Linked DNA regions of Homo sapiens. The protein of the gene in region 7 interacts with the protein of the main gene of each other region in a biochemical or structural test. Each region holds a gene or a part of one and is shown on either strand. Other genes may lie near its edges.

Evidence for each region.
Region 1: the proteins of CYTIP (region 7) and RASSF6 interact in a test that uses a peptide from one of them, tested with the Homo sapiens proteins (one large-scale study listed by IntAct).
Region 2: the proteins of CYTIP (region 7) and DLG5 interact in a test that uses a peptide from one of them, tested with the Homo sapiens proteins (one large-scale study listed by IntAct).
Region 3: the proteins of CYTIP (region 7) and SLCO1C1 interact in a test that uses a peptide from one of them, tested with the Homo sapiens proteins (one large-scale study listed by IntAct).
Region 4: the proteins of CYTIP (region 7) and SLC15A5 interact in a test that uses a peptide from one of them, tested with the Homo sapiens proteins (one large-scale study listed by IntAct).
Region 5: the proteins of CYTIP (region 7) and ARHGEF16 interact in a test that uses a peptide from one of them, tested with the Homo sapiens proteins (one large-scale study listed by IntAct).
Region 6: the proteins of CYTIP (region 7) and MAP2K2 interact in a test that uses a peptide from one of them, tested with the Homo sapiens proteins (one large-scale study listed by IntAct).

Annotation. Positions count from the first base shown.
Region 1 is NC_000004.12:73,572,525-73,575,468, reverse strand, and holds part of RASSF6 (ras association domain-containing protein 6), read left to right. Parts: 3' UTR 1-2,944.
Region 2 is NC_000010.11:77,804,574-77,808,824, reverse strand, and holds part of DLG5 (disks large homolog 5), read left to right. Parts: intron 1-880; coding exon 881-1,029; intron 1,030-1,896; coding exon 1,897-2,067; intron 2,068-2,653; coding exon of another isoform or gene 2,654-2,729; exon of another isoform or gene 2,730-2,926; intron 2,927-2,963; coding exon 2,964-3,160; intron 3,161-4,251. UniProt on the Homo sapiens protein: Acts as a regulator of the Hippo signaling pathway.
Region 3 is NC_000012.12:20,693,606-20,698,507, forward strand, and holds the start of SLCO1C1 (solute carrier organic anion transporter family member 1C1), read left to right. Parts: upstream 1-1,726; 5' UTR 1,727-2,202; intron 2,203-4,902. UniProt on the Homo sapiens protein: Mediates the Na(+)-independent high affinity transport of organic anions such as the thyroid hormones L-thyroxine (T4), L-thyroxine sulfate (T4S), and 3,3',5'-triiodo-L-thyronine (reverse T3, rT3) at the plasma membrane.
Region 4 is NC_000012.12:16,274,442-16,279,387, forward strand, and holds the start of SLC15A5 (solute carrier family 15 member 5), read right to left. Parts: upstream 3,245-4,946; coding exon 2,884-3,244; intron 2,085-2,883; exon of another isoform or gene 1,752-2,084; intron 1,411-1,751; exon of another isoform or gene 84-1,410; intron 1-83. UniProt on the Homo sapiens protein: Proton oligopeptide cotransporter.
Region 5 is NC_000001.11:3,471,536-3,475,786, forward strand, and holds part of ARHGEF16 (rho guanine nucleotide exchange factor 16), read left to right. Parts: intron 1-1,542; coding exon 1,543-1,695; intron 1,696-1,857; coding exon 1,858-1,987; intron 1,988-3,172; coding exon 3,173-3,247; intron 3,248-4,251. UniProt on the Homo sapiens protein: Guanyl-nucleotide exchange factor of the RHOG GTPase stimulating the exchange of RHOG-associated GDP for GTP. May play a role in chemotactic cell migration by mediating the activation of RAC1 by EPHA2.
Region 6 is NC_000019.10:4,103,391-4,107,641, forward strand, and holds part of MAP2K2 (dual specificity mitogen-activated protein kinase kinase 2), read right to left. Parts: intron 1-4,251. UniProt on the Homo sapiens protein: Catalyzes the concomitant phosphorylation of a threonine and a tyrosine residue in a Thr-Glu-Tyr sequence located in MAP kinases. Activates the ERK1 and ERK2 MAP kinases.
Region 7 is NC_000002.12:157,414,119-157,417,855, reverse strand, and holds the end of CYTIP (cytohesin-interacting protein), read left to right. Parts: intron 1-1,712; coding exon 1,713-2,179; 3' UTR 2,180-3,237; downstream 3,238-3,737. UniProt on the Homo sapiens protein: By its binding to cytohesin-1 (CYTH1), it modifies activation of ARFs by CYTH1 and its precise function may be to sequester CYTH1 in the cytoplasm.

The DNA.
Region 1 (2,944 bases), on a different chromosome or scaffold from region 7:
CTTGGCCCACAAATACCTATTTGTTGCTGAATGAATACAATGGATAAAGCAAGGCTGTTGTAGCTGAAGTTACATAGGGAATCCCAAACTCTGCCCTCTTAGCATCTTATTCTACATGACAACTCTCAAGGTACTCACAGATCTGTTTAACCCACTTGAAAAAAAAACACTAAAAATGAAGAAATGCTATAAGTATAAACTATGATTTTATTTATAAATTCTGTATTAAAATGGAATTATATGCAACATTCTTTCATTCTGTAAACTAATTCCATTTGCATTCCTCATAAGCATTGTAGTAAATTGATCATATTACATGTACTAAGGAATGAGATTATATGCAGTAAACCCAACTGGAAGATTAACAATATTAAAATATGAAACATTTTTAAGACAAAGGCATTACTTCTCAGTATTACCAAACCTAAACTGGTTGAAGGTGAAAGTGTGCTATGGCCTTTTCAAGCCTAAGAAGTCTCTCTTACTGAGTAAACCAGAGGCTTGCATCGCTATTCTTTCACCTGTCAATATTAATAAGAAAATAGTCTCATCTCACTTAAATGAGGCAAATGTAATAGTTAAAATTCAACATACTTATAAAAAACTAGTGTCATGTACCTGCCATGAACATGACAAAAGGTTAGTCTTCAATAGACTGAAATGTATAAGAGAAGAACCAAGTCTTACATAGAAAAAAAAGGTAGATATGAAAAGAAAAATCACAGAAGAGAGAATGCAAATGGCCACTAAGTATATGAAAAAAGTCGTATCTTAACAGTGAACAACTGTGTTAGTCTGTATCAATCAGAAGACAGAAACAAGGTAGTAATTTAAACAGGGAAAGTTTAATATAAATAATAATTAAGCTATGATAGGAGAATAATAATAAAGATGAAAAGAGAAGGTACCCTAAGGCTGAGGGAAAGAATCCTAACAAGGAAAGGCAGGAATGAGGGTTTCAGAATTCACTGGAGAAGGTGTGGTTGCAGCCCACTGGAGAGAAGTTTGCTGGCTTGCCCAGGCCAGAGCAGGACCACAGATACTGGACAAGCTGGTACAGCCAACCCCCTAGGTGTGGACCAGCTGAGGCAGGTGGGCAGATATGCAGAGGGACTTGGGGCTTTGCCAAAGGGTAAGCACAAAGAAGGAGTCACGGGTTCTGTTCGAGGCACTGTTGGGATTAGGAGCCGGAGGGACCTACTTTGCAGGAACCTAGCATAACTTTGTGTGACGAGACTGCACAAGACAAAGCTCAGGCAAGTGGCTCAGTAGTTGGCCAGCCCAGCAGGGTCCTCTGTATGAGTGTGCACCCAGCTGAAGAGAAGAAATGGAGAGCAGCAATTGGAGCTTCAGGACCGGCTTGCACTGTGGCTCCAGGTTATACCACCACTGCCCAAAGCAAAAGCTAGAGAAGCAAGTGGAGAAATGCTGGAGAAAGCTGCACCCTACAGGCAACCAGCACTGCAGAAACCACTCCAGGCAAAGTAGTGAAGGAAAAAAGCCTGCTCTCCAGTAGCCTGGCCTGTCAGCCTGGAGGAATCAGGAAAGACCCCTTCCTCTTGCAGTGTGTCTCCAGCGCCCTCTACTGACAAAGTATGCCATCATGCAAGCTGCAAAGGAAACATTTCAAGAGTCTATATCTATTTTCACGGAGCGGGCAACCAACAGTGAATGTGGAGCTGAGAGACAGTAAAATAATAACTGACATGCCACCGAAGTACAAAGTAAAATAAATAAATAAATACACATTTTGGCCTATTAGCAAAGATTAAGAAATGATAACATTAAATACTCAATAAATCACCATGAGATGGGGACTCAAACTTCTGGTAAAAATACAAATAGATATAATTTTTCTTGAAGGCAATTTAGTAGTCTGTTTATCCTATAATTCTACTTGTAAGATCCTATCATATGAAAATAACCAGAGATACAAAGACATTCTGCAAAGATATGTTTTATATTGTTATTTATTGTGACAAAAGGAAATAAAAAGCCTAAATGTTCAGAAAATTATTTTAAAAGATGAAAGAGGGAAATAGGCCATGGACGGTGGCTCACGCCTGTAATCCCAGCACTTTAGGAGGCCAAGGTAGGTGGATCACTTGAGGTTGGGATTTCGAGACCAGCCTGGCCAACATGGTGAAACCCTGCCTCTACTAAAAATACAAAAAATGAGCCGGGTGCAATGGCAGGCACCTATAATGCCAGCTACTCGGGAGGCTGAGGCAGGAGAATCGCTTGAACCCGGGAGGCGGAGGTTGCATGAGCCGAGATGGCGCCACTGCTCTCCAGCCTGGACGACAGAGCAAGACTCCGTCTCTAAAAAAAAAAAAAGAGGGAAATAAACATTTATTTGTATATTGTTATGTAGCCATTAAAATTCTGTTTCCAAGTAATTTTAATTACAGGGGTAAATTCTTATATATCTAAATAAGAATATACACATACACATGTTCCAAAATATTTATTATGTACTTAAGGCATATATATTATATATGTATGTGTGTGTATATATATATGTATTTGTGTGTGTGAACACTAATATTTGCATATATATACACACAAGAAATAAAAACATGTTAAAAATGGCTATATCTGCATTGTAGAATTATGAGTGATTCATGTTTTTCTAACTTCCCTATCTGTATTAAGTGTTCTATAGTTTATATTTGTTACTTTTTACATCAGGAAATAGTAAAGTTATTATTTAAAACTTATGAACAAAAAAGTAACAAGCACATGCAAGCACAGAGTTCTACCAAATGCAAAAAATTTCAAATCAATTATTCAAATGAGACATTAACATCACTTCTGTGGTAGTTTTATATCCATAAAGTCTGATTCTTCTCCTTTGAAGAGATGAAGCTTAATCTTCCTCATCCTGAAAATGGGCTGGACTTAGTGACTTACGTCTTTTTATTTTATTTTTAATTGACAAATA
Region 2 (4,251 bases), on a different chromosome or scaffold from region 7:
CTGTGCCTGGCCAGGGTTGATTTTTAATCCCTGTAAACCCAGAATCCTGCCAAGCCCTTCTGAGGAGGTCCCTGTGAAGCCAGGCAGGCCATTGAGGGAACCTGAGGGCAGAGCCTTGGCTCAGGCCCTGGGCATCAGGGGGTGCTCGCCCTCAGGTGATGTAGCTGCAGGACTCTGTTCTGATGAGAGAGGATGGTCTTTCTCTGTGGTCTCCTGCCTCATGGGGGAGATGGTTTGTGAGAATATAAAGGCACAAGTTGGGCTGGGTTTGGTGGCTCACACCTGTGAATTTTAGGAGGCCAAGGTGGGAGAATTAGTTGAGCCCAAGAGTTCAAGACCGGCCTGGGCAACATAGTGAGACCCTGTCTTTACAGAAAACAAAACAAAAAAATTAGCCAGGTGTGGTGGAGTGTGCCTGTTGTCCCAGCTATTCTGGAGGCTGAGGTGGGAGGATCACTTGAGCCTAAGAGGTATAGGCTACTGTGAGCTGTGATTGCACCACTGCACTCAGTCTGTGTGACAGAGGGAGACCCTGTTTCAGAAAATAAATAAATAAAAGCACAGGCAACATCAGCAAGAGGAAGGTCCCTATTCTGAAAAGCCCAGACTTGCCAGTCACCAGAACAGGGTTTTTCCTGGATAAGCTGTCAAGGGCAGGGCAGCCACTTGGCAGAGGACCTGGTGTCCAGGGAGCATGCACAGGACCTGGAGACTGGGGAGACCATGAAGACTCAGTCCTTCCTGCAGAGGGGAGGTAGCCAGAGTCTCAGTTAAGGAGGGATGTTGAATTTCTGCCGTATGGTCAGCACTGGCCCCTCTCGGGTGCCCAAGCTGCCCCCTGGCTTCTGCCTTCTGATGCATCCACCCCCATCCCTGGCAGTATGGCAGCCTGGACGTGCGGAACAAGACAGTGGAGGAAGTCTATGTGGAGATGCTGAAGCCCAGGGATGGCGTCCGCCTGAAGGTGCAGTACCGCCCTGAGGAGTTCACGAAGGCCAAGGGCCTGCCTGGTGACAGCTTCTACATCAGGTACCAGTGGCTGGGGAATCGGTGGGAGATTTGGAACCAGAGGAGAGGCTTTCACTGGAGACTCTTTTCCTGGTGAATGGCTCTCTGTTTCTTGCCCCCCAAGGCTGGGGCCATGATCATCATTCCTTGACACTCAATCTGCACGCTTATTTATGTTGAGATGATTGTGACTTAGAACAACCCTTTAGGGCTTAAAGAACCAGCTGGGCCCCCTCTTTAGGGCTTAAGACCTAGAGAATTTGGAGGCAGTCAAGCCCCGTTTTCCTGTGTGCTGTGCTCCTCTTTTTCTGGTGTCCCCCAAGCCAGGTTTGCAGATCCCTCTGCAGTGTGTGTGGACTTCCAGGCATCTTCAGTGCCCTTACTACTGTATGAAATGCTGTGGGCATTTAGGGATGGCAGCAGGCTTTCTAGGAGGAGCTCAGAGCTTTCTTCACATTTCCTAAGATCCAAGATCACAGAAAGCATGAGAACACTGATGCGGTACAACTCCCTGTCTCTAGGGTAGAAGATGACATATTTCCATCCTAGAGAGATTCCAGTCTGTAGGAACCAGGGGCCGGGCCTGGGCTTCGAGGAGGGAGGCAACTGGGAAAGGCCACCTGGAAAGGGAAGTTATGGCCTCAGATCTTGGTGAGTTCTTTGATGGGGATGCGCCCTCAGTGTTAGGGGAGCAAAGGCAGTCTTTGCCCCTTTATGTAAAACACAGGGCTCCCCACTTTGAGAATCACCACCCTCGGCGATTCCTGATCAAGTTTGGAGACAGCCCAAAGCAGAATGGCAGCCTTAGGGGCCTGGCCACAGAAGGCACCTGGTTCGTCCTTGGTGGCCAGAGCCGCCTGATCGTGTTCCTTCTGTGCTGTGGTCCAGGGCCCTGTACGACCGGCTGGCAGATGTGGAGCAAGAGTTGAGCTTTAAGAAGGACGACATCCTCTACGTGGATGACACCTTACCCCAGGGCACGTTCGGGTCCTGGATGGCTTGGCAGCTGGACGAGAATGCCCAGAAGATCCAGCGCGGGCAGATTCCCAGCAAATATGTGTAAGTGTTCTCCGGGCCTGGGGTGGGGTGGGGCAGGGGTCGCCGAGGGCCACCAGCCATGGAGCTGTCCCATGGGAGGGGGCTGGGGCCAGGGCTGCTGGAGGAGGGATTCTGCTTCTTATCTTAGCTTCTGCTCTCTACATTTTGCCAAAAGTGCTGGTCTAAAAAGCTGCTCCTAGTGTGAGTCAGTGCTGTATAGAGCACAGTGATGGGTCAGAAGGCATAACGTGTTTTAGAAAAATGGATTTATGGAGATACTCGTGCCTTGCCGCTCCCTCAAAGTGTACCATTCAGTGGTTTTCAACATATTGATAGGTGTGTGCAGCCGCCACTACAGTTAATTTTAGAGCATTTCCATCACCTCAAACAAACCCCAGACCCATTAGCTGTCAGCCCCTTATCCCACTGTCCTCCCACCCAGCCCTCAGCCCTAGGCAGCCACTACTTTACTTTTGATACCCATGGGTCTCCCTGTCTGGACTTCTGTGTGGTTGGGATTGCATAGTGTGGCCTTTCATCTGGCTCCTGTCACTGAGCATGTTTTCGAGGCAGCCTGCATCCCTGCATCATTTCCCTTCTATGGCAGGAAGCGTAACTCGTCATGTCACCAATTGAAGGCTGTCCTAGCAGTTCCTTTTGACACCGAGCTGAATATGCTGTAGTAGAAAAAATCGCCTGCTCTGAGAGCTTGCCCTGGTGCTGGTGTTTGTGTCACCCCCGCAGCATGTACCGAGGGTTCCCAGGGGCGTGGGAGGAGATGTAGCCTTGAGACCTGCCAAGGAGTGTGGGGGGAGCCCAGTGTCTGGCCCACCTTTGCTTTTCTCACCAGGAAGGGCAGGAAGGGCAGGGCAGCAGGGTCTCGATGGCCCTGCCCAGCATTGTCCCCTGTGCCACAGGATGGACCAAGAATTCTCCAGGAGGCTCAGCATGTCTGAAGTCAAAGATGACAATAGCGCCACAAAGACGCTGTCAGCGGCTGCACGCCGGTCCTTTTTTCGGAGGAAACACAAGCACAAACGCAGCGGGTCCAAGGACGGGAAAGACCTGCTCGCCTTGGATGCCTTTTCCAGTGACTCCATTCCACTCTTTGAAGGCAAGTGGCTGAGCTCATTTTCCAGTGGGCTCTCCAGATGGGGCTTGCTGTGGATCCAGGAGCTCCACAACAGGGACTTAAACAAAAGAGAGTCTTACTTTGCTTTTGTGCGCAAGTCTGAAGGTGTGTGTTCGGCTTGGTCGGGGGGTGCTGCCATCTTCAGAGCCACATCTATGGGGTGTGGCTTCCATCCTCCCAGTCACCGCCTGTCAATGCAGCTGCAGCCATCATGTCCCTGTTTCAGGCAGCAGGAGGAAGGAAGGAGTGGTAAGGCAGAAGTGTGCCTCAGCTGAGCGTGCCTCTTTCAGCAGCTATCTGGAAGCCCTAACCTGTGACTTCAACTTGCATCTCATTGTCCACTTGCATGTGCAAGAGAGGTCAAAAAGGCATGTTTTGGCCAGGCACAGTGGCTCACACGTTTAATCCCAGCACTTTGGGAGGCTGAGGTGGGTGGATCACCTGAGGTCAGGAGTTCAAGACCAGCCTGGCCAACATGGTGAAACCCTGTCTCTATTAAAAATACAAAAATTAGCCAGGTGTGGTGGCATGCACCTGTAATCCCAGCTACTTGGGAGGCTGAGGCAGGAGAATCCCTTGAACCCAGGAGGCGGAGGTGCAGTGAGCCAAGATCACGCCACCGTACTCCAGCCTGGGTGACAGAGCAAGATCCTGTCTCAAAAAATAATTAAAAAGAAAAGGCATGTTTTAGCTGGGTGCATTGCTGGCCTCAGTAAGAGGTTCAGTTACTGAGGAAGAATGGAGGGATAGCTATTGGGTAGGCAAGAAGCAATCTCTGCTGAGTGCCTTGCTTGCCATTTGTTTTTAGGTTCTTACAGGCTGCTTGGTAGTGACCAAGAGCTGTCGGTTTCTGCAGAACTTCGGCATTTCTGGCCTCAGTCCTGTGTTCATGAACAAGTCTTGTATAATCCTTATGGAGCAAGATGCTAGTCCAGGGCTGGAGTTGAGTGATAGGAGATGTCAGACATCCCCTGGTAGACAGCCCTTGTGGAAAGGATGCATTTGTCCTTTAAAGCAAGAGGCCCTTAGGAACGTGGCTCCCAGGGCCCTGGTGTGTGTCTACTGTCTACTGT
Region 3 (4,902 bases), on a different chromosome or scaffold from region 7:
AAGTTAAGATGAGGTCATGAGGGTGGTCCCCAGCCAAAGATGACTAGCGTTTTTTTAAGTACAGAGGACAGAGACATAAAGGGAGAAGATGGCCATGTGGTAACAGAAGCAGCTGTTGGAGTGATACACCTATAAAACAAGGAGTTCAGGCTGTCAGCAAACACCAGGAGGTGGAAGAGGTAAGGAGGATTCTTCCCTACAGGTCTCAGAGGGAGCATGGCTCTGCTGACACCTTGATTTTTGACTTCTGGCCTCCAAAAGTGTGAGACAATAAAGTTCTGTTTTAGGTCACTCAGCTTGTAGTACTTTGTTAGTGCAGTCTTAGGAAATGCATTCATTTATATGTTGTCTGTGGTTAATTTACCACCAGAATGGCAGAGGTGAGTGGTTGTGATAGAGATTGCATGGTCCTACAAAACCTAAAATATTTCTTATTTGTCCCTTTATAGAAGTTTGTTAACTCCCTCATCTAGAGTTTGGAAATGGGAATGAAAGGCTGAAGTAGGCTACAATCCAATGCAAGGTTGCACATAAGAAGCTCTGAATAAGTGTAAACATTATGTGCATTCAAAACAGTAACATTAACTGTGGACTCTGGAAATAAGAAAAGGAATCGTGTTGGAGAGTGAGACTGAGCCAGTTGGGAATAGACAAAATTACATTCTCAAGGGAGAATTTCATTTCTTGGTGAGGAAAATTATGCCCTTTGGGCTGGTAAATACTGTCTCCTCTTGAATAAAACAGTGGTCTGGCCACCTGTTAGACACTGAGAAGTCTAGACTAACACTCAATGTATTCGGATGTTTGCTCACTATTTCCGATGGAAAAGTCTGGTTTGATTGTTAAAGTAAAATATTTGGCCTTTCAGAGTGTGAAAACACCATTGCTTCATTGCAAGGTTTAATATAAACCCATTTTTCTTGCATTTTCTTTTCTTTCTTTTGTAGTAAAATGTGCTTGAATAATATTAACTATTCTGACCATTATGTGAACTAAATATATATATATATAAAATGATGATACCTTCCGCTCATTTGCAATGTGCTTTTGAATACATTATATAATTTAATCCTTAAAACAGCCCTATAAATCTGTTTTTTTTTTTTTTAAACAAAAAAATTCTGCTTTACAAAGGAAGAAGTTGAGACTCAGTAAAATTAAGTGACCATCCCAGAGTCTCAGCCACTTAAGAGTAGGGTGAATCTTGGATAATTCTGGTAGCAAATTTATTTATTGGTAGAAAATAAATGCAAACTACTACTGCTTAAGATCCTCTAAAGTTTTTCTCTTGGAAAAAGAATGTATTAGAATTGTGGACTTTCTCAGTGCAAGGATTTATTTATCCTTGGAATTAGGCAGAATAAACAATTGAATGCCAAAAATTCAACGTGTTTCTTTTCTGTTTTCAAAACTCATAGAAATTGTAAATATGAGCAACTGATCATGTCTCTGAGAATTAACTCTTTTTGTACAGAGCGCTGCAGAGCTTTGATTGTGACCTGATACTTGGTCCTTAAAGATTCTAGAACACCAATGGAAAAGAAAACCATGTAGCAAATTAGCCCAAGAACCGTTAAAGACAAAACAAAACAAACCAAAACCAAAACACACAAACAAAGAAAACACAAGGATCCCAGTGATGTCCCTAAGGAATAGTTGGCTTAAAAACTTTCTGGAAGGAGGAGGGGTCTCTGTTATAAACTTCCGCCCTCCTCTGGCTTCTGTTCCTTACCCTCTGCCCCCTGCGGAGTTGTGTTTTCTGGGAATCAGCAAGTAAGATCACAAGTGGTCTTTTCTTTTATTCACTCTCTCCCATAAAGAAAGCTTTATCACGTGTGGCCTTAAACTTGCAGCAAATTGCAAAGAAATGGCTCAAAAGCTTCAGCTCTTTCTGTGCCCTGGGAGCTGAGATGCACGTCAGTGGCCTTGCCAGCGTGGCCAATTCTCTGCTGACTGCCAGAAAAAAGAGGCCAGGAAGAAAGAGGAAAGAGAAGAGATCGCTCAGGGGTGAGACCATGCCCTTCATCTTTTCTTTTCCCTAATCTCCTCTGCTTGTGTCCACCCACACTCTCCCCACCTGGCAAAATTGTTCAAAATTGCTGTGGAGTTTACCTCAGTTTCCTCTTTCAGTCTGTGGTGTGTGGTCCATCCTCTTGCTGAGCACATTGAAAGGAACTGGCTATCTTTGATCTCTTCCTCCAGGTAAGACTTGGTTCTCTCATTTTATATTTTGTGACTAATACATCAGATTCTTATGGGAGATTAACCCTTAATTTCTGTGCGATTTATGTTTTATCCATAAAAATATCAGTGAAAGGTGATGATCCCCTCATTAGTTTGATGGAAATAAGAGAGAAGATTGGTTAAAGAAATCAGATAAACTCAAATTTGAGTTCAAATTTTGAGTCTCATGCTTATAAATTGTTTAGCTTTTGACAAGTCACTTAATTGCTTTGGGCCATCTAATTTAAAAAATGGAATTCTAATATTACGTTTGTTGGGTTGTTTTAAGGATTAGAAAAAGTACGTACATTACTCAACACAAAAATAGTACTTATTAAATCTGAATCTGACACAGATAATTTGTATTAGGTGAGAAATTAGTTTCTAAACAACACACACTCCTCTGCAGCAAGTGCCGTGAGGCTATTTTTTAGTTTGTCTGAAGGGAGGCATCCTGGTGTCCAGAAGTCAAGCCAGGACAGAGGTTTTCCTCACAGGAGATGGCCAAGAGAAGAGAGGGAGGAGCGTGGTTGCCTTTAGGACTTTCTCTGTGGCAGTCCTTGGGGACTGATTGCTGGACAGAGTCCGAGTCAGTTGCAGAGCAGAGGGGTTGAGTACATCTGCGGGATCTAACTACAACCTTCCTAAGCCACTTGCTCTCTCCATTTAAAATCTGGAGGGCTGATTTTGAAACTAATGAGGACTGATTATTCAATGTTTTTGAACCAAAGGAAGAGAAACTGCTTGGCTTGTTTTTCTTTGGCCTCCAGAATAAGTTATGCTCCAAACCCAGGGTATTGGATGAAAACTGTCGTATGTCTTTTCCTGGAAGAATCTATTCAAGTGGCCAGAGATCAATTAAGGATTTGCCAAATGCAAATAATTCTGAATAACTGTGTACTCTTGCTCTACTTCTGCAGTTGCAAATGAAGAGAGAGAGCCTGCAGGCCCCAAGGATCTTTCCGTTCATGTCATTGAGCTTCCTTCCCTCTCTTTTTACAGGGGATGAACTGTAGCCTCCTTGGAACATACTACACTTGCAATAATTTGCGCATTAACCATCAAGACACTTCAGTAAAGCTATGCAGTGCCAATAGTTTAAGCTGGATCCTATTTTGCCCTAACACAAAGTGAACTGAGATGACTATATTTATATTTCATTATACTTTTGAATTTTAGTTACAGTGATTTTTGTGTCAACACCTCCATATATTAGATAACTTAAAATGTGCTATAGTATCTCAAGTTTTTCAGTAGTGTTTTTAACATAATTATTTTTTCTCTTTGACATTAGCATTCTAGATGTAACACTTTGGATCTTTTAAAGATAAATTTAGGATAAATGATAGCAGATTTTATTATTAAACAATTTATTTGTATTTTCTGGTCACTGACTTTAATATTATGACTGATGAGAAATAATATGATATCTGAATCCCCAAAAACAGAAGGCCAATTTGAATTATATAATTTAATCCTTTGAAGAATATTGCAATTTAAGCCAGAAATTTAATAATTATCCGTTTCTTATTTTAAAACCTTTCTGGTTTGTATATCTCTTGCTTGGCAATATTTTTACTCATAGTTTTGTAGTAAAGATACCTATTTAACATTGTATAACTCTGCATTTCCCAAACCCTGTTTTCCTTGTCCTGGCAAAATACTGTTCTAGAAAAGTAGTCCTAGTGACTCAGTAGATATAGGAAGTTGGCTGTTGGTATCAGATACTGTTAAGGAAGAATCTCTATATTCTTCATTTCTTAAACTTTGTTTTTTAAATCAGTAATAGATGTCGAATTTTATCAACTGATGTTTTTCATGTAATGAAATTCTATTTTTTATTTTGAATTATTCATGTGGTAATTTAGGTGAATAAATTTCCTGTAATTAACCAATTGTTGCATCTTTTAGAATAATTCTAATCATAGAGCAAGAGTTAATTTGGATTTGCTAGCATTTACTTAGAATTTTTATAATCTATGGGCTTGATCTGAAGTTTTCCTTTCTGTGCTATCTTTGTGCTGTTTTGTTACCAAGATAATGTTATTTTTGTCAAACTAATGGAGACAATGATTATCTGTTTCCATTATCGGCTATCTTTCCTCAAAGAATATCCCTTGATAAAGCACTTCTGGTGCATCATCTATCCTTAGTATCTTTGTTTAGGGAATAGTTTCAGAGTATTTTTGATAATGTCTTTCTTGGCTATTTTCTCTTCTGGTTTTTATCAATATAGGTAATGAATATTTGCTAGAAACTTATCCATTAAGTCAAGATATTAAACTTACTTCAACATTCGATGCATCTTTTTATGTTTTATACTCCTAAATATCTGTGTTTTATCTCATTAATATTATGTATTTATATCTTTGTTTTTTGTCTTGATTAACATTATTAGCTCTTTGTTTTGCTTATTTTTTGTTTTTAAATTTTTCTCTTTCACTCACTCTTCTTTTTCAATTAAAAAATTAAAGTTATGAATGCTTATAAAATGAATCCAAAAGCCTAATAATAATTTTTTTGAAACCAGACCCTTGTCTCATCCTTTCCTTTAGTCAATTCCCACTCCCTAGAGGAATCCACTTAATTTTTAAATTGTTGAAGTCCTCTGATGTTTTAACTTCATATTATTAATACAAAGCAAATCGTTTATACTATTACTTGATTTTTCAGTTTGAG
Region 4 (4,946 bases), on a different chromosome or scaffold from region 7:
ATTTCATGTGATTTGTTTTCTCAATTAGATTATAAATTCCTTACAGATAAAAATTTGGTCTAATGCTTCCATCTCCCCTACAGAGGCTTTCACAATGTAAAGACTATATGCCCTTAATAGCTATTTGGCAACAGATTCATTTACCATGAGGTGAGCCCTTTAAATTATTGAGTTTGAAATGTTCCCTTTTAAGGTTAGCCAGATATGAAACTAACTGCTCTCTTTCTACCACTTAGTCTTCTCTTCTGTAGGTGTGACGTGAGGCCTGGCTAGACAAAGGGATGTCCAAAGAGGAGGGACAGGACAACTATTTCATGCAGGAACTATTAGGAACAAGGCACTTTTAGTTTGAATGATATATTTGTGTAACTTAGGCACTTTACTTCCATCTTTTGAGAAAATGTCATAATAGGCTGATTGTGTTAAATCAAAACTTTATCCCTATCTGTTGTAAAATGATGCAGTAAAGAGACAAAACAATGACATATATGAAGAAAAGTCTCCTCTGTGATGTGTGCAATTGTGTATCTCATCATCAGTATGCCTGCATTTAGTAGCTCTGTAGAAGCACCATGATGTGTCATACCCCCTGCCAGGTGATGGGGGTCCGCTGAAGGAAATGTTGAGTCCATCAGAGAAGTCAGCCATGCAGGTGGACAATTATATTATAAAGTGATGGATGCAATCGTATAAGTATTATATGGGTGTGGTTGAACACAGAGAAGCTAGCAACAAACACTATTTGGTTCTTGAAAGAATAGCAGGAGTTTTCCAATCATGGATAAGGGATGGAAAGATAAGGGAAGGTGACAATTTCAGAAAGAGAGAAGAGCATGTACAAGATTAGAAAACTAGGGAAGGAGGCCAGGAGAAGTTAGCAAGGTTGGGGTTGCGTGTTGAACAACAAGTCTAGAGAGGTGAACTTAGAATAGGTTGGTAAGGTTGTTGTATGCTAAATTAATAAGTTTGGATTTCATTTTTTAGATAATAGAAGCAATATAGAGATTTATTTGTTCAGGAAGTCAGTGTTGTTGGTAGAATGGAGTACAAGCTGGAGACTGACTGAGAACTGGCAGCCGAGTAAGTAGGCCATTGGAATGGTTAAAAAGAAGAAAGCTGCATTTTTTCAGCTAGGGTAGTAGCAATTCAGACAGAAGACCTTTCTTATATATAACCTCTGAAATTTAGTGACAGTTGGAATTTGATGGCAGCTGTAAGTGGAGGGCAACAAAGAAATAACTTTTAGTAAAAAAATGAATGGATGTAGAGTTGACTTAAGTCTTTTGTTTGCCAGATTCCAAAGTTGGGATTTCCATCCTGTCTGATGACTGACCTCAGAATTTAGACTGATAGAAATTACCATGTTAAACAAGAAGTCAACAAATGCTACTGGTGTGGCCTGTTACCAAGGTAAGCAGAGTAAGTTAGTCTGGGATTTGCTTAAATGTCTTCTTATCAGAAAACTTTTTCTCGGTACCAAGTAGCAGCCTCATCACCATCCATTCCATCCTGTCCCCCTACCCAGCTTTATTTTTCCATCCTAACTCATTGCCACATGACATCATATCTATTTCCTCTTTTATTTTCTCTCTCCCTGCACCAAAAAGTCAACTTTAGCAGGAACAGACGACTTTCTTCTCTATTGCATTTCCAGACCCAGAATAATGTCTGGTACAGAGTAGTCAATAAGAAATATTTGTTGAATGTTGAGTGATTATTTGCCATGCAGTGACCTAGTTTTTATTCCACAGAACTAAAGCTGTGAAGTTTCCAGGTTTGACTTAAACTCCAATGGATTCTCTGAATGGTAATTTACCACCTGCCTGAGATTGTGTGATATGTTGAGTACCTGATATCTATCCATCTCTTTCTCATCTGTCCCCCTACCAATACTCATTTCAGCTGCACTTCTCATTATTGGTGAACAGCATGCTATATTCCCAAGTTGCTCAGATCAGAAACTTGGAGCTAATTTTTGACCCCCATCACATTTGTACCTTTATTTAGTTGCCTTACAGCTTTTCACTTGTTCTCTCCTGAATTGGCACTTTATTGCTTAAACCATCATCCTGAGATTTTCTGATCTCTCTCTATTTAATTCCTCACTGTGGTTGTCCATCCTGTATTGCAGAATAGCATTTCTCAAATGTTGTTTTCATGATATTTTCAGAGACTTCTTGTTGCTTAAGAAGAATAACTTGAACTTTTCAGTTTAAAATTCTAGTCTGTTCTTCAAGTTGCTCTCTATTTCTTATTAAACTATCTTGATATTTTCCCAGCATTTCTCACAATCGGTCCCAAACTTTTGCAGATATATATTAGTATATATGTAAAGATGCACACTATAGTGTCTAATTTACTCATTTCTAAAGCATATAATCATAGTTAAAAATATAGAAATCATGCCATCATATGCAATCTTAATTACTATATGACTAATTAAAAGACCACCTTTGGATAAAAACATTTCTCAATTATTTTACATGAACTTCAAAAACCTTTTTTAGCACATTTCATCTTAGTTGTGAAGCAAATACATTTCACATTTCTGAGGGAATTTGTCATGAATTTAGGCTTGAGGTAAAAAGGTTTTGGGAAAGGAGGGCATTCTAAGGAGTAAGATAGATATGTAAAGGAGTAATTATTATAAAATATAAATGCAATGATATAGGCACAAAACATTCTCTAACACACACACACACACACACAGACTTACTAGCATTCTTCAAATAGTACAAAGAATGAAATACATTGAACCCACATTCTTACTTCATTTATCACATTTTATGCTAAGAGCAGAGTGAAAATAATATAAACTAAAAATTCTAACAAAAATCTACTTAATTAAGTCACAAAACAATCCAGTCAGCAGAGGACACTCACCTAGAAAATGTAGAAACAAGCAAATGTACACCAGTTTGTTTCTTCCTAAATAGACATCAGTGAGCCATCTGACAAACACAGGGGTAAGTATTGAAGTTCCAATAAAACACAAGTTTAAGATGGCTGCTTGGCAATTGTGATAGCCAAGCTTGATAGTGCAAAAGGGGATCATGTTGCAGACGACTTCAAAGAACGTGAACCTCTCACACAGCTCCACCAGAAGCAAGCAGATTCCAACCTGAATTTTTTTCACAGAGTGTGAGGAACACAAATCGCCAATATGTCTTACAGTTTTCTCCTTCTCAATGCTGTGATATAAGTGTACTTTCTCATCAGTTATGGTAAAGCCTGTAACAGACATGACTACCCTCCTTGAACAAAACTTATGTTAGTGGTTTGAACTTGGTGATATTTTGAGCCCCATCCCTCTGATGAAAAAAATAAGAACGTTGCTTTGAATTTCACATCTCCATGCTAGAATTTCATAAGGTTTGTTTTTTGCACATGGACGTTGTTCCTTTTGATGATCCAAGAGCATGAGTATTTAAATGTTCACAGTAGCTCAGTGTACCCAAATCTGATTTGTTTGCTTAATTACTTAGCGGCTAAATTAGGATCGTCCTCCAAAATTGTATTGAATTACATGAATCCAGTTGCAAACATGTGGAAACTCATCTGCCTCATACTGATAAAGGTTTAAATATTGAGGCAGAAGAAGCAGGTTTTCGGGAGAATTTGAGCACTAGATCAAGAAATAATTTGAGTCTAATAATTTCTGATACTTTAATTAAACAAGCCAGAACAGTACCAAGAGATAAAGCGCAAAAGGAAATCTGTTTTGAAGGGCACGATATCTTATCATTATTACATTTCTTGTTATTTTTGGTTGGAATTCTGATAAGAAACTTAATTAGGTAACAAAAGTGCTAGTACATTTAGGTAACAAGCAGAGTTTACAAGAAAGTAATTTAAGTGCACTAATGAAAGGAGAAAATATTAAACGAAACCCTGCTTCCTTTTAGTTGACCCCATGCTTGTAGAACAGCCTCTCAGAGGAAATCAGAATCAAAAGGTGCTATTTAACTCCTTTATTATTAATCAGTAGTCAGGGATACAGCAACCAGCCTACACAGGCTTTGGGGAATATTGGATCTGGTATCACCCTGACCCTTCAGCTGGGTGAATGGGTGTTAGCATTCTATTTTGGAAAGCAGGAGGGCCAATTAAGCTAAAAAAGCAGCAGTGAAAGAGAACACCTTAACATTTAGTGGCTTAGCTGCAAGGACATAGGAAGAAAAGGGACCGGAACTATTGGGTCAAAGTCATAATAATTCAACACTTGAGTATAGGAATGTTATTTTCATGCTGTAGTCAAAACCTAAAGACCAATAGGGACTTTTGACTCTGGTTATCATCTTTTGGTTGTGAGAGACTGGGGGCAAAATACTCTGTTTTGACCCCTTCTAATAGCCTCATTGTAATGGTAGCTATTTGTCTCTGCTCAGCATTGCTACTTTGGTAACGATGCCCTAAATTTCCTTTGTGTAAATTGATCATGCAATTTATGATCCAAACTTGGACAGTTTTGTGCAGGTGAAAAGTGATGCTATTTATGGTTACTCCCCAAAAAAAAAAAACAGTTATAAACTGGGACTGTCCAGGGCAACACTCTAACATGTGTTCACCCTACCTTTGGAGAATGACTCCTATCTATTACCTGAGATCATGGTGGGGCTGTTGATCAGCATATGCCTTTTCTTCTAACCAAGTGGGTCAACACCCGGTCTAAGATAGTCCTTTTACTTTTCTCCTGTGGAATTTTAATCTTGAGTGGAATGACTTAAGAATGGGCATGGTGGCAGCTGAGTTATTCAGATGGCAGTGTATTAGTCTGTTTTCATGCTGCTAATAAAGACATATCCGAGACTGGATAATTATAAAGGAAAGAGGTTTAATGGACCTACAGTTTCACCTGGCTGGGGTGGCCTCACAATCATGACGGAAGGCAAAAGGCATTATCTTACATGGCAGCAGGCAAGAGAGAAAAATCGTAGCCAAGCGAA
Region 5 (4,251 bases), on a different chromosome or scaffold from region 7:
GCTGGGGGAGGGGGAGGGGTCTGGGATAGCGGCTGCCCCTCCCCCAGCTCTGCCCCCAGCCAGGCAGGCTTTGTGTTCTCTGAGCTCTGTGTCCTCCGGTCCCCTCTGCCTCAGGCAGCTGCATGTTTGCCTCTGACCTCCTCAGGGCTTTAGATTGCTGCCCTGGGGCGGGAAGCTCCGGCCTCCTCCCCCAGCTGGGCCCCCGACAGCTCCTGGCATTCACAGTGAACTGTCTGGGGAATCATCGCTATTTGGGGTAAGCGGCTGGTGGGCGGCTCTCCCAGACCTTTCTCAGAACCTGCAGTCACCCATATGAGCTGCTGACCGGCCTGGCCGGCCTGGGCACGTACGCATGTCGTGGCCCTGCTCATCCAGCAACCGAGGCCTCCCATGACCTGCTGGGTCCTCGTCCACGGGGACTGCAGCTCCATCTGCTGGGGATTCTCAAGGGCAAGCAGCTGTCAGGACACTCTCCCTGCAGGAAGCGTGGCTCCTGCGTGGGTGGCAGGCCCAGTCGGGCCCCGTGAGCAGAGGAGGAGGGACTCCCGCCCACCTCCACGCTGGGTAAGGGAGTCCTCCGAAGGACAGAGCTCTTGGGCTGGGAGGACCTCCTGTGGCGGCGGCCTGGAGACACGGATGTGGTCTCGGGTTGGGTGCTCTGAGGGTCTGCAGGATGGACGAGGCTCCAGCCACCGCCTCACACAGCAGGTGACCATCGTGGGTCCAGCCAAGCCCAGCCTTGGTGGCCGTGGCCGCCCATGGGGGCAGAATCCTGGCAGCCCTGGCCTAGCTCTGACCAAGTGTTAACTCCCTTCATCCTGATCACCCTGGACCAAGGCCTGGGTCATGGGGAGGTGAGGGGCTGGTAGCCCCTTCCAGGGAGTCTGCCAAGAGCCCACAGCTGGCCCCCCCCCGGCCTTGACTGTTCCCTCAGAACGGGGTGGGGGACCTAGTGAAAGTAAACAGTTCATGAACCCAGCTGGGAGCTTGACCAGCAGAGCTGCCTCGGATTTGGGACTCATCCTTGGAAGGGGTGGCCCCAGGCATCGCCCCTCTTTGCTCTTGTGCCTGTCCCCTGAGTCTCCGTCCTTGAGTTTCTTCCCAGGGGCAAGCTGGTGCGGCAGCGGGGGCCCGGGCCTGTGTGGAGGCCCAGTCGTTTTAGCTGGAAGGAGCTTGAAGGGCGAAGGGCACCAACTGGACAGGGCACCAGGACAGGAGGTCCAAATGGGCCCGCCTTTGGGGACAGTCCCTGGGGCTGCCCCTGGACAACAGAGGGACGGCACCAGTGCGTGGGATCGTGGCAGGGGGCTCTGTAAGGAGCCCCAGGCCTCTGACCACTTCCCACCCGCCCTCCCTGCTGTCCAGCATCCCAGGTCCGGGTCCCGCCCCAAGTGCTTGCTGTGTGCTGCCTCTGGGAGCTGAGCTCAGCTCCTGCCACGTCCATGTATGTGTGAGTGTGCATGCAGATGCATGTCTGTGTGTGCACACGTGGGGCCCGACCACCAGGCCCGTGGCACCCTCCTCACCCCTCCTTGCCTTCAGGTTCTTCGAGGACCTGGAGCAGCGGCACAAGGCCCAGGTGCTGGTCGAGGACATCAGTGACATCCTGGAGGAGCACGCTGAGAAGCACTTCCACCCCTACATCGCCTACTGCTCCAACGAGGTCTACCAACAGCGCACGCTGCAGAAGCTGATGTGAGTGGGCGGCCCCGAGGCCCGCAGGGTGGCTCAGGAGCATCCTGCACCCTGGTCTCCCAAAGCACATTCCTGCTCCCAGCCCAGCTTCTGCAGGTCCTGCCTGATTTTGGTACAGGCTGGCCATGCAGAGCCTGGAAGGACAGCCTTGTCCTCTTGCAGAAGCAGCAACGCCGCCTTCCGAGAGGCCCTGAGAGAGATTGAGAGGCGGCCGGCGTGCGGGGGCCTGCCCATGCTCTCCTTCCTGATCCTCCCCATGCAGCGGGTGACCCGGCTGCCCCTCCTGATGGATGTAAGTCCACGGCCTGAGGGTGGGGCCGGGCATACCATCCTGGGGTCCCACGGCCAGAGCCCTGCCCCGGATGGAGCATTACGTGCTTGTGACCTTCTCCTCCAGGCTTGGCCTATGATATTGTAATAGTTACGATCCTAAGATGGCTTTATTAACCAGGATAACTTTGTGGTCGCCGCCACCCACAGAGCTCACTGTGCCGGGAACTGTTCCAGCCCTTGGCGGATTTGTGTTCACTTACTCAATGGTTCATGAGGTTCAGGCACACTGACGAGTTGGAACTGGCATCACCCAGAGCCCTGCTGAGCCTCCTCCCAGCCCCCACCCCACCAGTCCTCCTAGACGTGGTAGCCCTGTCCCTGGCACCTACTCTCCCTGTTCTGTGGACGCAGAGAGGGGCTCAGAGAGGCTCACCAGCATGGGCTGTGTGTGTGGGATGCCAGCCCACAGGGCAGAGGGTATATGAGGGTGAAAGGTGTACACACACACGCACACATGTATATACAGTGTACACGCACTCAGGCACGTATGTGCCCATGTGCACACAATGCATATGTATGGATGCACGCCAGTACACACATGCATGCACACTTGCACACACTGCATTGCACCGATGCATGCACATGTGCACACAATGCACACGTTTGCATACATGCACACACAGGCACTGCACACACATGCACCCGGTGCACACACATACACGTGGATGCACACACATGCATGCACATGGTGCACAGGCATATTCACACATGTGCATGCTGCCCATACACACAGCCCCGCACATGGCAGGACTGAGCTAAGCTTCCTGAGGCTACACATGGCAGGGTTGCCCAAGCCAAACAGAACCTCAAACTCCTGGGGGCCCCAGGGATGTGCAGAAATGGGGCTGCCAGGGGGCCTCCACTGACGATTCCCCAAGTTGGATGGAGATGGCCGAGGATGGGAAGGGAAGGGTTCCAGGCAGGGGTGCTAGCTCCTGTTCCCACTCAACCTGGCCTGACCTGGCAGAGCTCCAGGTGGTGCAGAGGCCGTTCAGGGGCTGTACGTGCTGTGGGGCCCTGCAGGAGCCCCCTGGGGGCAGCTGTTGACCACCCTGCAGCCCCACACGGGGTCTGGCGTTGGTGGGAGCCTCCACACCTGGGATGCCAGAGGGGACTTTCTGTCCCATGTCTGTTGTCCATCCAGACGCTCTGCCTCAAGACCCAGGGCCACTCCGAAAGGTACAAGGCTGCCAGCCGTGCACTGAAGGCCATCAGCAAGGTAAGATGGGGCCTGGCCCCAGCCCTACCCGAGTCCTGTACCCCGACCCTGTCCCCACCCAACCCCACCCTACCCGATGGCATAGGGCTGGCTTCCCCTACCTTCCAGGGCAGCGAGTGTTCTCAGATTATCCATCCCAAGCCTTTCACAGCGCTGACAGGGAAACTGAGGCCCAGAGGTTCCCAGATTATCCATCCCAAGCCTTTCACAGCGCTGACAGGGAAACTGAGGCCCAGAGGTTCCCAGATTATCCATCCCAAGCCTTTCACAGCGCTGACAGGGAAACTGAGGCCCAGAGGTTCCCAGATTATCCATCCCAGGCCTTTCACGGCGCTGACAGGGAAACTGAGGCCCAGAGGTTCCCAGATTATCCATCCCAGGCCTTTCACGGCGCTGACAGGGAAACTGAGGCCCAGAGGTTCCCAGATTATCCATCCCAGGCCTTTCACGGCGCTGACAGGGAAACTGAGGCCCAGAGGTTCCCAGATTATCCATCCCAGGCCTTTCACGGCGCTGACAGGGAAACTGAGGCCCAGAGGTTCCCAGATTATCCATCCCAGGCCTTTCACGGCGCTGACAGGGAAACTGAGGCCCAGAGGTTCCCAGATTATCCATCCCAGGCCTTTCACAGCGCTGACAGGGAAACTGAGGCCCAGAGGTTCCCAGATTATCCATCCCAGGCCTTTCACAGCGCTGACAGGGAAACTGAGGCCCAGAGGTTCCCAGATTATCCATCCCAGGCCTTTCACAGCGCTGACAGGGAAACTGAGGCCCAGAGGTTCCCAGATTATCCATCCCAGGCCTTTCACAGCGCTGACAGGGAAACTGAGGCCCAGAGGTTCCCAGATTATCCATCCCAGGCCTTTCACAGCGCTGACAGGGAAACTGAGGCCCAGAGGTTCCCAGATTATCCATCCCAGGCCTTTCACAGCGCTGACAGGGAAACTGAGGCCCAGAGGTTCCCAGATTATCCATCCCAAGCCTTTCACAGTGCTGACAGGGAA
Region 6 (4,251 bases), on a different chromosome or scaffold from region 7:
AGGCAGAGGCTCCGGACACACCTGCCAGGCCACCCCCAGGACAGCAGGGGTGACAGGCCAAGTTCCCACTGCCACCGTCTGGCGTGCGTCTCTTCTGTGCTCAGCAGAGAGGAAAGTGGAACTGAGGCTAGAGAGGGCGGGCTGGAGGAGCCTGGAGAGGCTGGCTGGGGAGCCTGGATTTCCCCACCATGCTGCTCCAGGACTCCTGCAAAAGCCCAGCCTTCCCTGGGATGGCTTTCATTCACATGGGTGGGAGGAGCCGGGGGAGAAATCCTGGGACTCAGGGGTGCCCGGGTTGCCGCTCTCTGGCCACTTCTGCCCAGCTAGGCTTGGAGAGAAAGGCCGAAGGCAGTTCTAGAAAACCCAACACGCTTTGAGACCTCTAAAGCATACACGTGACTCCATCCACCAGCTCCAGGCTGAAGACGCAGACACACAGGGTGAGAGGGCAGGTATGGCCAGGGCTCAGACAGCCCAGGAGGAGGTGCCAGGACGGGAGCTCCAGTGAGCCAGGGCCAGGTGGAAGCTGCTTCTATTCTCAGTTTTTATCAATCTACCTTAAAAGAATTACTTAAAATGAGGCCGGACATGGGCTGGGAGCGGTGACTCACGCCTGTAATGCCAGGACTTTGGGAGGCTGAGGCAGGCGGATCACTTGAGGTCAGGAGTTTGAGACCAGCCTGGCCAATATGGTAAAACCCCATCTCCACTAAAAATAAAAAAAATTAGCTGGGCGTGGTGGTGGATGCCTGTAATCTCAGCTACTCGGGAGGCTGAGGCAGGAAGATCACTTGAACCTGGGAGGCAGAGGTTGCTGTGAGTCGAGATCGTGCCACTTCTCTCTCGCCTGGGCGAGAGAGCAAGACTCCTCAATTAAAAAAAAAAAAAAAAAAAGCCGCACGTGGTGGCGCACACCTATAATCCTACCACTTTGGGAGGCCAAAGCAAAAAGAATGCTTGAGCTGAGGAGTTTGAGACCATCCCGAGCCACACAGTGAGACCCCATACCAAAATCAGCCGGGCGTGGTGGTGCACGCCTGTAGTCCCAGCTACTCAGAAGGCTGAGGTGGGAGGATCCCTTGAACCTGGGAGGTCAAGGTTGCAGTGAGCCGAGATCACACCACTGCACTCCAGCCTGGGTGACAGAGCAAGACCCTGTCTCAAAAAAACAAAAACCAGAAAGAGACCAACGACTCGAAAGAGGCAGGGTGGCGAAAACCAAACAGACGCACCAAACGCAACCCTAAAACCCCTGCTCCCCAGCACAGCTCCTTCCGTCTTCGTTTCTCCTGGGGCCGCAATCAATGTTTGTTTAGTGAGAAAATTCAAAGAGCCTCTCCCCGGAGATGAGGGCGGGCGGAGCGCTGTGCTGCAGCCTCAGGAGCTGGTGGAAGACGCCTCACAGGAGCATCGCTCTCTCTGCAGCCGCCTTTCTCCACTGTGACATCGGGGCCAGGTCACTCTCTGGGGTGGGGCCGACCTGGGCACTGCAGGGCGCTGAGTAGCGTCCCTGGCCTCCATCCACTCCACGCCAGGAGCATCCCCCAGTTGTGACAACCACACACATCCCCAGACAGTGCCAGGTGTCTCCTGGGAGGGAGAACTGCCCCTGGTTGAGAAGGGCTGATCTCCAGCTATAAAGACCAAAGTCTGGCAGGGTAAGCAATTTGTCTGAGTCACAGAGACAGGATGTGGTGCAGGGGGTATTGCAGCTGTGTACTGCTGACCCCAAATCTCACTCTGTGCATGACCATACACGTCTACCGTGTGTGTGTGTGTGTGTGTGTGTGTGTGTGTGTGTGTGTGTGTGTGTGATGTTTAAAATGGTCTTGTAACTGTAATTTTGTTACGTAGGTAGTAGGTGAACACATTTTTCTTTCTTTTTTTTTTTTTCCTGAGGCGGAGTCTCGCTCTGTTGCCCAGGCGGGGGTGCAGTGGCACCATCTCGGCTCACTGCAAGCTCCGCCTCCCGGGTTCACGCCATTCTCCTGCCTCAGCCTCCTGAGTAGCTGGGACTACAGGTGCCCGCCACCACACTCGGCTAATTTTTTGTATTTTTAGTAGAGATGGGGTTTCACTACTGGTGTTAGCCAGGATGGTCTCGATCTCCTGACCTCGTGATCCGCCCGCCTCGGCCTCCCAAAGTGCTGGGATTACAGGCTTGAGCCACCGCACCCGGCAAACACATTTTTCTTATAAAAAATTCAAATGAGGATAAATAACCTGGACGCCGCATCACTTCCACCATTCCCCCCTCAAGTGTGACTTATATTGTTCCAGATCTTTCTTCATCTCTCTCTTTCTTTCTTTCAGGCAGGGGTCGCCCAGACTGCAGCATAGTGCTGTGATCTTGGCTCACTGCAGCCTCCACCTCCTTGGTTCAGGCAGTCCTCCCACCTCAGCTTCCCAAGTAGCTGGGAGTACAGGCGCGCCACCATGTCCTGCTAATTTTTTGTAGAGACGGGGGTTCCTCATGTTGCCCAGGCTGCTCTCGAAGTCCTGGCTGAAGAGGTCCTCCCACTTCAGCCTCCCAAAGTGCTGGGATCACAGGAGTGAGCACCTGGCCCCCGCATCTTGCTGTGTATTTGGAAACACAGACTCGGGACTCACTCTCTTGCCCAGGCTGTAGAGCAGTGGCTCAATCATAGCTCACTGCAGCCTCGACCTACTGGGCTCATGGGATTCTCCCAAAGCACTGGGATTAAAGCATGCTTGCCCAGCCAGAGTTTAAAACAACATCGAAATGGGCTCATGTCTGTAATCCCAGCACTTTGGGAGGCCGAGGCAGGAGGGTCACTTGTGGCCAGGAGTTCAAGACCAGTCTGGGCAATATGGAGAGACCCTATCTCTACACAAATAAGCAAATAAATTAGCTGTGCATGGTGGCTCACGCCTGTGGTCTCAACTACTCGGGAGGCTGACGTGGGAGGACAGCACCAGTACACTCCAGGCTGGACAACTGAGCAAGACCCTGACTTGAAAATACAATAAACAAATGAATGGGCCAATGCTATGTTTATTTTATTTTTCTTTTATTTTGAAATGGAGTCTTGCTGTCGCCAGGCTGGAGTGCAGTGGCATGATCTCGGCTCACTGCAACCTCCGCCTCCCGGGTGCATGTGATTCTCCTGCCTCAGCCTCCTGAGGAGCTGGGACTACAGGCGTGCGCCACCATGCCCAGCTAATTTTGTATTTTTAGTATAGATGGGGTTTCACCATGTTGGCCAGGATGGTCTTGAACTCTTGACCTCGTGATCCGCCTGCCTTGGCCTCCCAAAGTGCTAGGATTACAAACGTGAGCCACTGCACCCAGCCCATGCTATGTTTATTTTCTACAACCACCCCTCCACTACATGAATAGTGTTGTACTGTGGGGATACTCCCATTCAGTACACCATTGTGGATTTCACTTTGCCACTGCAAAGCAGCCAAATATCATTCTTTAATCACTCCCTTACTGATGGACATGTCCAGTTTCCATTACAGTAGAACAAGACGGGCATTCTTCAGCAGATAGGACGAGACCCCCAGAAAGGCCAAGGGGCACCTCTACGAGGTCCGTAAGCCACTGGCTCTCCTTTCCCCATCCCATGAGGCCCCACTGTCCACTGGGTTCTTGCCCCGAGTTATCCAGTAATAGGTTCAGACCCCAGGGAAGCAGCCAGCCCCACTGTTCCTAAGTTCCAGTCACCAACAAGTGCTTGCCATTTTATATAAATACATCACTGGGCACGGTGGCTCACCCCTGTAATCCCAGCACTTTGGGAGGCTGAGGCGGGAGAATCGTTTGAGCCCAGGAGTTCAAGATTAGCCTGGGAAACATAGTGCCATCCCATATCTACAAAAAAACTTGCCGGGCGCGGTGGCTCACGCCTGTAATCCCAGCACTTTTGGGAGGCAGAGGCAGGCGGATCACGAGGTCAGGAGATCGAGACCATCCTGGCTAACACAGCGAAACCCCGTCTCTACTAAAAATACAAAAAATTAGCCGGCTGTGGTGGCGGGCGCCTGTAGTCCCAGCTACTCGGGAGGCTGAGGCGGGAGAATGGCGTGAACCTGGGAGGTGGAGCTTGCAGTGAGCCAAGATTGTGCCACTGCACTCCAGCCTGGGCGACAGAGCTAGACTCCGTCTCAAAAAAAAAAAAAAAAAAAAAAACAAACTTAAAAAGCTACTCAAGCGTGCTGGTGCACCTGTAGTCCCGGCTACCTGGAAGGTTGAGGCAGGAGGATCGTTTGAGCCCAAGAGGTGGA
Region 7 (3,737 bases):
ATCTCTTCTTTAAATAGCACCAAGCTTAAGTCTGTAACCTAGAATATCTGTTAAAAGTGATAATCAATTTGTTTACCAAAAAAGATAACAATTTAATCCTTAACTAGTCACTAATTTATGGCTTAGAGTTCTGGTATGAACTTCTGTTTTTTTTTTTTTAAATTGAAGTGTTTGAAACTTATGTACAAGTTACTTCTCTTTTTTATGTCTTCATTTAATATTTTTAAAAAATTCATAATAGTTCTTTTGGGTAGTGAAGTTTGTTAGAGAGGCAGAAATATTTAATACAAAAACTTCTTTATGGCCTTGTAAATTCAGCCACCTCCTTGCTTTCTTTAGACATGAGGGCTTTTTAGCCTCATTTCCACTTCTGGAGCATCCTGAATGGCCCAGTGAATATAAATTCTTGCTGTTCTATAGAAACAGCCTTGTATAGACAACATTGTTAGGTCAGGATCCTCATAAAGTCATTGTTGTACATATTTTTTGAGCAATTGAAGGAGTTCTGCTTTTTCTAGATGTATAGTAAACATCCAGGGCATGTGATTCTATAAGGCAATTGCTCTCCAATCAAAAGAAATTCATCACTTATTGCAAGATGAAATGAAGTAGGTTGTATTAGCAAAAAGGAAAGCATTATGACTAGTCACCATGGGGCTGGCTGTACTCAACCTTGCAAATCATCTGAAAGAACAGTTTCTTTTTATATTGTCAACCGAGGACAAAAGACAGCAGCAGTGGAGATAATCAGTACAAAATAAAACCATTTTAGAGTGTACAGTATTCTATTATTTTTTCTGAAGCATAGTCACTTACTGATTACGTTTTTCCAAGGCTGGTATTACAAGTTCTCTCTCTCTCTCTCTCTCTCTCTCACACACACACACACACAAGATACCAACCAACTCAGTTAGTGTGGAAGCAGGGAGGGTCATATTGGTATGTGATTAACATTAGAGTTTGAAGAGCCAGATGTACGTTGTTAAGGATCAATGAAAAAAATTTAGCCAAGCAGATAAAATTCAATTTCTTCAAATAAATTATTACTTACTTGAGGACAAGGATGATTTCTGGGTACAGTATCATTCCAGAGAATTTAAGTATTCCAAAACGAAACTGGGAATATTGAGGTTGGAAGATACATTTGATTTCACAAATCCTTTCTCTAAGAAACACTTTTGAATTACCTGTTCCATAACTGTTTTCTATTTACTTCAAATGGTTTTATAATAATTTTAGAATTATTTTTAAAAGACAGTACCTAAGAATCAGAGAAACTAAGTGGAGAAAATCATGATAGTATTTCCCCAAGTGTATTCTATGGAACCCCATTTCTGTGAGAATTTTAATAAAAGGTTTCAGGGTTATTTAAATTTAAGAAATGATCATTTTGGAGGTTCAGATGCCACACTGGTAGACTGTCAATTGGGCTGAACTGTTCTCATATGAAACATCTTGTTTAAATTTATTCTAATATTATAATTTTTGTGACCATGGAACCTTGGTCTATGAACAATAGTTCAGGAAACCCTACTATAAGGTTTATCAAATGGTCTCATAAACAGTTACTTATTCAAGCACGCCAAAGCTCAGTGAAAAGTATTTTTCACCCTTACTCTTTCTCGTGTCATTCAAAGAGAAGTTTTGATGTAGTGTATTTATTTGTAGGGAGTAATGAACAGATCCATTTCACAGTAGACTTTGTGCTCTAGGTGATGCAGCTAATTGCCCCAGTTTGGAAAACATGGACTTGGATGAATTGTCTTTGTTTGGACCCCTGCCTGGGCCAGGCCCAGCCCTTGTGGACCGGAATCGATTATCCAGTGAGAGCAGCTGTAAGAGCTGGCTGAGCTCCATGACGATGGACAGTGAAGATGGCTACCAGACGTGTGTGTCTGAGGACTCCAGCAGGGGTGCCTTCAGTCGGCAGACGAGTACAGATGATGAGTGCTTTATCCCCAAGGAGGGGGATGATTTTCTGAGGAGGTCATCTTCAAGGAGGAACCGGAGCATCAGTAACACCAGCAGCGGATCCATGTCTCCCTTGTGGGAGGGCAACTTATCAAGCATGTTTGGGACCCTGCCCCGGAAGAGCAGAAAGGGAAGTGTCCGAAAGCAACTCTTGAAATTTATCCCTGGCCTTCATCGTGCTGTGGAAGAGGAAGAAAGTCGCTTTTGACGGATTGTGGTGTCCTTTCAAATTAGCTTATTTCACAAATATCTCTAGACTCACCCAGATCCCAGCTTGGTGGGAAAGTGCAGAAGAATTGCAAAACTGACATCCCATTTCACAGCAATAGTGACCTTTATTTAAATTGTTGTGTTATAGTTTATGCTTCTTAAATCATTTTTCAACCTAAACAGCCAATTTCTAAGCAGACAGGAAAACTAAATAATAAGTTAATTAATATAACAAAGATGCAGGTTCCTGCTCATTCCAGTAATGTCTTTGAAAGCAAAACTAATATTTATTTTCTAGATTATCCCTGTGAATAATTGAGAACTTTTTGGAGTCAAGTATGAATAAAGGTGTGGCAGAATATAATAATCTGGACTATTTTCTATAGGATAATTGCTGGGTTATAAAATCTTAGGTTTGCTTATGCCCAGTAGCTCCTGCGGAGGCTTAATAATAGGCAATTTTGAATTTGTTCAAACCTGTAATGGCTTGTAAACAAAGATGACCATCAGCTGTTTCTCACATCTATAGTGACAATAAAGCGGGAAGTATAAGATTTAATAGGAGGGGTTAAGGTTCATGAGAACCATGGAAAGATGTGGTCTGAGATGGGTGCTGCAAAGATCATAATAAAGTCATTTTTATAGACAGTCTAAACAAAATGGGTGGGGATGTCGTGTTTTTTGCCCAATTCAGCTTTTGTTCTGCCTGAACATTAATGGCAAGTCTAGAACTCTCCGAATCCTACAGCTTTGTAATTTTTTTTCTACAAATGTCTAACATCCAAAACTGAGGGTTGGGAAAAGGACTTCCCTCCTGTAGTTTTTTTCATATTACTTCTCACTTTATATCTTATATTCTAAATAGCTATCACCTCAGCAGTCTTTTGCCTATTGGTTATGTTAGTATCACATTACTTCTAGCCTTTCAATTACTCCATGTTTTATTTAATATCCATTGAAGTCTATGAATTCTCTGTTCTGGTGGCACAGCTATTCATAACCTATATTCTAGAGTAGACAATCTGGACTATGTAATAAATAGTCTGCTGATTTTAAGTTCTCTCTCTCTCTCTCTCTCTCTCTCTCTCTCTCTGTGCGTGTGTGTGTGTGTTTGGGAGAAATAGAAACACTTCAATTTAAGTAGAGCTGCTAAATTTAATTAAACTTCTGCTTAAGAAATGAGTTATTTTGAGATAAAAGAGGGTAGGGTAAGGAAGCATCTAAGATGAGAAAGAAATGATAAAGTATGAAAAGATTTCTAGTTGGGACTTGCCTTCTATTAACTCTTTGAACTGAGAAACATCCAGTGGCCTGTGCATGACAGTCACTCATATGAAAGGCAGGGTGTCACACCTTTCACAGAAATGATAGCAATACTGTCTACCATTTACTGAGTACCTAGTTGGCTAAAGACACTTTACGTATGATCCTCACAATTACTATATAGTAGGTGTTAGGCATACAGATAACAAGTCAGGAATTTGGAAATGTTCTCAGGGTCACAAGGCTAGTCAGTGGCAGGGCTAAAATTGGAAGCCAGTTCTTCCTTGCTCTAG